Linked DNA regions of Homo sapiens: region 2 is linked to region 1. The links come from fine-mapping of genetic effects on gene expression. Tissue or cell type: lung. Region 1 holds a variant in brackets; the other region holds the start of a gene. All regions are shown on one strand. Distances are from middle to middle.

Region 1 (4,393 bases):
ATATGTTTTCTCACACAGTGAAATGCATGGCAGTTATTTCTTTGGGCTAGCATGCAAAAGTCATTTAGCCACACAGGGTAATTTAGAAAATGGCATCTCTCAAGTTCAAGGCTGGTGTCATTTCTCTCCCTCTCTCTCCAAATTACCATCTAGGTCAACTGTAAAATGCCCCTGCAGCCTCCGGCCTCCTGCATTCTACTCCATTCCTCTGTTTTTACTGGCAGGTGAACTTTTTGTTCATCAATCAGTTCAGCCATCTCTTCATCCATCCATTCACACACCTTCAGCTTTGTCCCTAAATAATTTAAATCTCCTAACAGAGATGTAGAAAACATGAAAGTAGGTGAGAAAAATACAAAGGATAGTGAGCAGGTTATTCCCATTGTGAATTGAAGATGGATTGCAGCAAAGAATACTTCTTGGGGGACAAATTCCTGCTGAGCGTGTTCTGTAACATCACAATACAAGAGAAAACTTAACAGAAAATGTGTTTGAAGTTGCTGAGACCATCTCCTCCCCAGAGATGCCCTTTGCTACACTGGCAGGGCCACTCCAGCTGTAGTCCCAGAGGGATGCGGCCCTGGTGTGAGGGGCAGTATTTCAGCTGGAGGAGCAGAGTTGGGAGAGGGCTGAGGGCTGGTTTCGGGGGTGGAGGCTCCTGGAGGAGGGGTGGAGGGGCTGGCTGTGCAGGGCCAGGGCCTCCTCCTGGGAGCGTGAGCTGGGGGGTAGGTGAGGCGTGCTCTTTACCTTGCTCTGCTCTCAGGCCATGCCTGGACTGTTCTTCCTGCTCTGGCACCTCAGGGAATCAATCACTTTTGTCTCTTCCTATTGCCTGCTGTTCCTGAACAGGGCTCCTCTTCTCGCTGGTCCACAGGAACCTGTTGACCTTCCCCGGTGTGCCTTAGGGAAGCGGAACACCCTCAAAGTATAAGTGTGTTTTGCCATGAACAAGGCCAGGACCACAGAGCCACCTTCCTCTGCCCCTTCTCATCTCTGCTTCTTATTTCCACACCTTCCCACCTTTCCCTTCCCTTACTGCACTGCCTTCTTCCTTCTCCTCTTCCTTTGTTCCTCCTTTCCTCTTTTTCTTCCTTTTCCCTTCCCTTCTTACTAAACAAAGTAAGAAGTGGACAAAGTGTGGGCGTTGGTCTGACACGCAGGCTGGAGCTAAGAGCTACTCTACCAGGAGGACTTGCAGGTTGGGGCTCGGGCACATTGCAGCAGCGGAGGAGCCTCTGGAGTAGCCAGGCCCCAGCGGGACACGGCACCTGGTGCAGGTGAACTCTTCTCTATTATAAGAGTGTGACGCTAATCTTCAGCTCTCCTGGGTTCTCTTCATCATAAATATTCCTGGAATGAACATCACTGTGTTGGCTTGTCCTGAGGCACTCACCTCAGCCACTCCCTTCTAGGCTGGACCTTTGTGTTCTGTAGAGAGCTGCCTTGGGTGGTAGAGGCTGGCCTGAGAGTCCCAGCAAGTCAGTGCCCACTTCAAGTCATCTTCAGAAGTAGCTTATTTTATTTGTTCTAAATAATTATCTGTCCATTTCAACATATACTGCAGATGAAATATCTGCCAATGCAGCATTACATAAATACCAACGTAGTGCCAGCTCCAGCTGAGAGTGAAGCCGGGACTTGTTTACCTACAGTAACTGCGTGCTCAGCATTCTTGGGTGAGGCTGTTTATCATGGCCAACCTGCAGCCAGTGGTCTGGAGAGGCTCTTGCACCTGTATGGTCCCACCTCAGAGAGGCAAATGGATCTCTGCTTGTTGAGAGTGATTCTGAAACTATGCAAGCTCATGGATAAGGGGCTCTGACTGGCAGATGGAGTTTGTTGAGGGTAAAAGGAGTCACCTGGTGGGTGCTGGTCCTGGGGAAGGCATGCAGTCAGCCAGGATTGCTTGCCTTTTCAAGCCACCCTATGTGAAGTCACCTTTTGCTGAGGCATCCTGGCTCAGCGGATCTGGGCTCATAGTTGTGAAGACCTGCAAAGTTGCTGATCCATCTGTATGGAATTGTCTGCATCCGTGCAGGGTGTGACAACCCGGCATGTCACTGTGGTCAGAGCAGCCCGGGGCTCTCCTGCATGCAGCGCCGGTGCAGACTTCCAGCAAGCCCATCTGGGGACTGTCCACTGCTTTATAAAGGGTATGGGCAGGGAACTC[T/C]GGCCATGTTCGAGCAGGATGTGATTAACATGACACAGACTACTGTTTTCTTGTTCTAACAGCATTTTCAGTGGCATGGCAGTGAGTGGGTCACAGGACATAAGAAAAGACAGTGGATGAAGTTAAGAGAAATAGAAAAGCCGCAGGAAGCAATTTTGGAGGACGCCAGTGCTGCTGGCAGGAGAAACCCCAGCCAGCAAGCCACGGCTCCCCCGTGGGCCTGCCCACCTTGCCAGCCTCCCAAAGGTGGTGCCGCTCCCAGCCGCAGCCCCATCCTATCTTGAGAGCCCCTGTTTGGGGTCTCCACTTTCTCTGCTGGCCCAGAGGAGCCGTTGCCTTTGCAGGGATCTTCTTAGTTGTGCCTGAAGATTGTGGCACCCTTGACCTCTCTCCTCTGCCATCTCAATACCATATTCATTTCTGTCCCGCAGGCTTCTTTCACGAGGCTGTAATTACTGGCAGGGACACCTTACCTACCTCCTCCTCTCTCTCCAAATACTGTCCTTCGAGGCCTAATTGAAGGCCTCTCTCCTCCAGGAAGTCTTTTCTGAATGTTGGAGGCTCTGATAACCTTCCGGGTTTTTCCCTCCCTAACTCTGCACCTACAGCAGTTCGGCATTACACACCATCCTGCGTTCTTCATTTGTTTATTCAACCACGTTTTAGGGATTTTGAAGGTGAATTACTGTTGCTGTTTCCATCAGCAATAAACAGACATATAGACACATAGTTGGACACATTTGGACACGTCAAATAAGTCTTAAAGGCCGTGGAATGAGTCTAGTTATATATGTTTTTCCATTCTAGATGGCATGAAATTTAATGTCTATTCAAAAGTCGAAACTATAAAACTCCACTAAGTATAAGCTTTCCAGATAACTAGTTTATTTTCTCCCTGGAACTTAAAATAGGAGGAGGAAAGGGAAGTCTAATTCTGAGAAAGTAGGATCTCTTTCGGATGTTTTGTCCATTAAATAGTGAATATTTTATTACACTAAAAAATTCTATGCATGTAGACTTACAGTAAGTACTCCATATACATTTTAGGCTGATAAATTGGAATAACTGGTATTCTAAGGGGCATAATTTCCTAACATAAGGACACAGTTACCTGTGCTACAATGAAGAGATTAAAAATTGGTTATTGAATGCTTTATCTTAAAGGAGTGCTGTGTAGTAAAGAAGATTCATATTTGCTAAGCTCTTTAAAAACTGTAATGCATGGTGCAAATGTTACATATATAGACGTACATTCTCTTTGCAAAGAGCTTTCACAAAGGACAATGTACTATGAAGATGGCCACTTGGAAGTAAATAGGACTTTGAGGCGTTTCTGATGCCACTGTAGAGAATGTCAACAATGGCAGTATTAAATTTGCTGTTTTTTATTATTTATTTCAATGCCCAGAAGCAAACTGTTGAATAATTTCACCATCAGGTTACAATTGAATTAGGTTCTAAATTATAGGAGGTTAGTGGGACTCTGTGGACCTGAAATTGACCTCTGCTGTCGCCTGGAGACAGTTCTGGGCATCTTGCTGACAACTGCCGCTAAAGGAATTGTGGAGCCTGTTGGTCCTCATGAGAGGAAGTCAGCGCTTTCCTCATCCATCTTTTCTTCCTTCTTAAGAAAAATTCTTCTGTCCCAAATTTCTTCCCAGAGGAGGGTTCTCCTAGAACTATTCAAGGGTCTCTTCCAACAGCATTTGACAGGTGTGGAATTACTACTTAAAAAAGTCACGAGACTAACTAACTGAAGGGGAACGATGGTGCTTGACTACGAATGCCACATTTGTGCTCAGGTGCAGGTTATTCAAGCTGTGGCTGAATGTCTTTGGAACCATTACTGGAGCAAAGCCTGCAGACAACTCCTTGCTAAACCATAAAATGATGATTCTGGCAAGCAAAGATCAGATGCAATCTGAGTGCTCTGAGAAGCAGAAGAATCAGTGCTTTGAAAGGGATCACAAATACTGGATTTTTTGTTGTGGTGGTGGTGGTGGTTTTGTCTTTTTTAGAGGCAGAAGGCAGAGGTCTCACTCTGTCACCCAGGCTGGAGTGCTGTGGCACGATTATTGCTCACTGCAGCCTCTAACTCCTGGGCTCAAAGTGATCCTCCTGCCCCAGCCCCCTGAGTGCCATAGGTGTGCACCACCTCTCCCCTGGTTACTTTTCTGTAGAGACGGGGGTCTCACTATGTTGACTAGGCTGGTCTTGAACTCC
Region 2 (4,393 bases), 40 kb after region 1:
ATTTTTATTTGAATTACTTTTAGGAATACTTTCAAACTATGACGGGCTGGTACAATTTCTAACTTTGAATATTGAAACAAAAATTATCTCTGAGGAAAATTTGTCGAGTTCAATATAACAAAATAAAAATATTTTTTATTTAATAAAAATAAAGAAAGAAAGAAATCCCATGTGTTCACGTCTTCATTTAGTGTTTCCCTCCCAGTTCTCAGGAGGCCACCATGCCGCCCTGTTCCGCACATAGCACTGGGTTCTTAAAAATGGTCAGTCTCGGTATTTCTGGCCGGGCAGCCCCTGGGAACAATCGCCTTGTTGATAGTTTTCCACACTTAATCAGAGAATTTAAAGCAATACAAATGGAATAGTGGTGAAAGTACCAACTCTGACCTTAACTCTTCATACATTGTCTTAAGTTTAAATTCAGCCCTCAAAAACAAATTTAAAACAAAATGAAAGTTTTTCCTCTGGATATTTGAAAGACTGACACCCATTTTCACTCTCTCAATCTAAGTGAAGCCTTATGGAAATGATTAGCACACAAGGCATATTTCTATAGTTGGATATTTATAAAATATAACGTGGCACATTAAAATTTTTCTAGACTCTATCACCACCTTAAAAATGAATATTTAAAAATTACCCTGCAGTTACATGCCAGTGTGCTTGAAATTTATTTTTATAAATATTCATTTGAATTATAGGCTTCAAATGTCTGTATCAAGCAATAAATTGTCATTTTAAAACCAGGAACAACAAAGAGTGACTGTTTATTGGGTTTAAAAAAGGCTTTTATCTCTCACAGACTTTGGGATCCGGTTTAAGGGTTGTAGAATGGTAAGAAGTATCGGGCATTTGGAAAAAATGGAGATCCAAGGAGTGAAGAAGTGTGTCAGATCTTTTTAAGCAGGAAATCGAGTGATGGCTGCCTACTGCAGGACGTCACAGATGTCTGCACCTGTCCAACCCTTGACAGATGCTCCCAACACACCCAACCTGGGAGCCAGTCAGCCTAACCATCTTCCCTGCAAATACACACAGTACAAAAATAAAATGTTCTCTCATCAAGTCTAAATAGAGATCCACATAAGCCATCCATGTCAGAGAACTCTAGCTTTGTACGCTATGATAAAAAAAAGTATTTAAAATGAAATAAACACCTTAATTCATGCTCATCTTGAGACACACTTACCAAAGTTTAAATGTTTAAAAATAAGGCAATAGACATTTTTATGGTTGATAACAAACTACAAATTTGTCTGGGGGAAAAAATCATTAAATGTTTGACAAAAGAGCTGTGATAAGAGATAAAGAACACAGTATTCACTGTCTAAAGAACCAGAGGGGAAAATACAGCTTGTCCCCGAGCCCACATTTTCAACTATGTGTGCTATGATTACAGTTCTAAACAATGGATACTGTGTCAGCACAGAGAAAAACAAACAATAGATCTTTTTCTGAAAGTATCTGTAGGAAGACCATACAAAACAGTCAACAAGGGAACTGAAATAATCCTTGCATTCTTTGCAAAAATAATACTTTAAGGTTCCTTTGCAAGAATGTTGGTATTCTTTTCCACTGTGCATTTCATTTTCCTTCATTCACTACAGATTTTCTCCCAACCTGCACCTGGTTTGAGCAGCAGTCAGCTGGCTTCTGGGGACTTTCCCTATTTCATTCCCTCTAACCCCCAGAGACTCTGGAGGCAGCTGCACAACTGTGCTTTCTTTAGTTATAAAAGCTAGCTTGTGACATCCTTTGTGTGATTCAGTTAAAAACTGAATTAACTGAAATCAATTCAACAACAACTGCCCCGGTGCTTCCCCGTAGATAGCACCGCTGGTCAGTTCGGGAGGGGATGGGACATTGAGGAGCAGGACAGTCTTCAGGAAGCTTACAGTCTGCTTTGGGGTGTGAGACACCAGGCGGGGTGTGGCTTTCATTGGGAGGGACTCCTATGAAGTGTTACAGGGTTTAGAGAAAAAAGGTGGCTGGAAATGGAAGATGAGAGGATCCTGGACAACCTGGGGGCAGAGGGACGTCATGGCTCTGAGTGGGAGTGGAGAAGATGGCATTTTGGTGGATGGGTGGAGGAAGAGCATAGGCACAGATGGCCACGTGGAGTGTGGTCCACAGATAAGTCACCTGGTGGAGTGCAGCCACAGTGCCTGAGTCAGGAGGTCTCAGCTCGTGAGTGTATCTTAGCTCAACGATACACTCAAGATCCTTGAGCTAGGAGAAACCCTATAAACCACCTAAGTGGATGCCTTCTCTTTAGAGAGGAGAGAGCTTAGGTCACAGAGAGGCTGTGACCTCCCCCAAGGGTGGTGCAGAAAGCGGCCATAGCAGTGAAGGGGAAAGGCCTCGTGGCGTTGGGGGGCCACTCGCCATAAAGGTGTGGGGGTCAGAGAAAGGGAAGATCAGAGGACACTGGAACTTGACACTGAGCTGAGGAATGAGACTGGGTGGGATCATTCATAGAAATTTCATCTGAAGCCTGGGAAGGAAGTAGGTTTGGGGGGTGGCGGGAAGGGATGATGGTGAAGTTAGTTTTTTAATTATTGCTTTTATTTATGTATTTATTGTTTGCAATTTTGAGGTCTAGTGTCCATTTAAGTGGAATGGCTTAGGAAAAGGTGCTCATATTTTAAGCTGTTCTCCTGGACTAAGGGTGAATACATAGTCCCTCTTTTAACTTGAATCTAAGTAACAGGTTTTTTGTTTGTTTGTTTTGTTTTTCAAATGATAATATGTAATATTTTAAATTCAGTATTCTAATAAATGCTAAATAAGGGATTTCTGATTTCAGTTGTTTCAGGAACACAGTCATCCCTCAGAAATGGATTGGGTGACAAGTGGTCTGCATGCTGCACACGGGCACTGGGTGAGTGTGCTTGGAGCTGTTTGTCAGGACATCATCAGCAATAGACAGAACACGAGGGAAGTAATCAGTGAAAGAAGACGAAGTTGTTAAGTTGTTTCTGACTTTATCTTTGGAGCGGGCTCACAGAACATTTGAGTGGGCTTTTTGGTATAAGAGAAAGAGCCCTACACTTTTGCCCAATTCTAGTTCTAGGCTCCAAAACAAATTTTACTAGGGTTCTGAACTGACGGGTTAGACTGTTTTTGTTAACTTTTATTCTTATAAATATTTTTGGCCATTGCAGTCCAATCAGAAGAAAAGTAGAAAGCAGGTCATTTTTACCTTCTCTAAGAAAAGAAATCCAAAATTTACAGGAAAGCCCATTCTTGAAAGTCCCTTGTGCTGCTAGGCAGGGCCTTTCGATTATTTTCAGACAGATGTTGAACCTTCAGAATTTCCTCCGTGCATCGGGGTCACTGACTACTTGTGTCTAATGCAACTCTGCACTAACTAGATTGTGCGCCGACCTCTATTTTCACTTTCAAACCTCATATTCCAACGTTGCTCAAGGTTGACTGTCACTGACTGGGCTTTTCTTTACGACTGTACTTATGAAGAACAAATGTACTTGTAAATGTTTGGGGACTTCAAATTTAGTTTACAAATGTGTAGTCCTCATTGAAGATTCGATTTGTATTATATTTAGGCAAGTTTTCTGGCTCTTAATGGGGTCCTAATGAGTCACCGATGGTAAGGCTTCAGATTCAGACCTTCCTGTTAGGATGGGGATGAGCTGTTTGTCCTCATTTGCCAATTATTTGGAAGAGAAAACCAATGTAATGCAATCGGAATCCAGTTGTATTATTAAGACCCGCATTTGAAACCTAGTTTCTTCTATCAGAAGTAATTTTTCTGATTTTTGGATTATGTACTTCTCCTTCATATAAATGAATGTTACTGCTTTTGTGGTGTTACCAGACCTAGCTTATAGAAATAAATGACAGGCCACCTGGGGGTCTGCCCGTGCAAGCATGAACTAAGCAGCAACAAGCAGTATGCCCTGCGGTGACCAGTGTGTCAGCATTCACATAAGCCCGGGACAGTGAATGCGGGCCCTTGTCAGTCACGGGCATCAGGCGCATGGCACTGGGCACAGCTGACTGCCTGTTGATGCTGATGGCTGGATGGCTGCATTTAAGTACACTTTCACAAAACTCATTTGTATCTCTTCCCGAAGAAACCTAAATGGAATTAATTTGTTGGAGGGCTGCAATGTAAAATTTTTAAATAGAGAACAAAATGGAGTATGTTGCTGTTTCATGGAAGAGAACACGGGAGAAACTAGCAATCTGTAAGCTAAAAATTGATGGCAGCCCCTGCCACAATGAATAATTGGCAATGCCATTCAGCCTTTAAAGGTATCAGATAATGAATAAGCTGGGCATAAGGCATCTAGTTCCCTTCCATTATTCTCCAATAGGTTATGTAATAAACATCCATCCCTGAAAGATAATTCTGTTTTTCATTGTTCTG

Evidence for each region. PIP is the estimated chance that this variant, and not a neighbour inherited with it, causes the effect.
Region 2: it holds the start of PACRG-AS3, and the variant in region 1 is the best candidate, but not a certain one, in a credible set for the expression of PACRG-AS3 in lung (TOPMed, PIP 0.64).

Annotation. Positions count from the first base shown.
Region 1 is chr6:163,229,151-163,233,543 of GRCh38, reverse strand. All of the region lies in intron 4 of PACRG (parkin coregulated), which reads right to left. Among named protein-coding and RNA genes, the nearest start is that of PACRG-AS3, 39 kb to the right of the region's middle. The variant T/C (reference allele first, on the strand shown) is at 2,171.
Region 2 is chr6:163,189,396-163,193,788 of GRCh38, reverse strand. It overlaps PACRG-AS3 (PACRG antisense RNA 3), which reads left to right and starts at 1,787. Exons shown (of 4, transcript NR_122120.1): 1 at 1,787-1,908; 2 at 2,807-2,881. The region is part of intron 4 of PACRG (parkin coregulated); the gene reads right to left.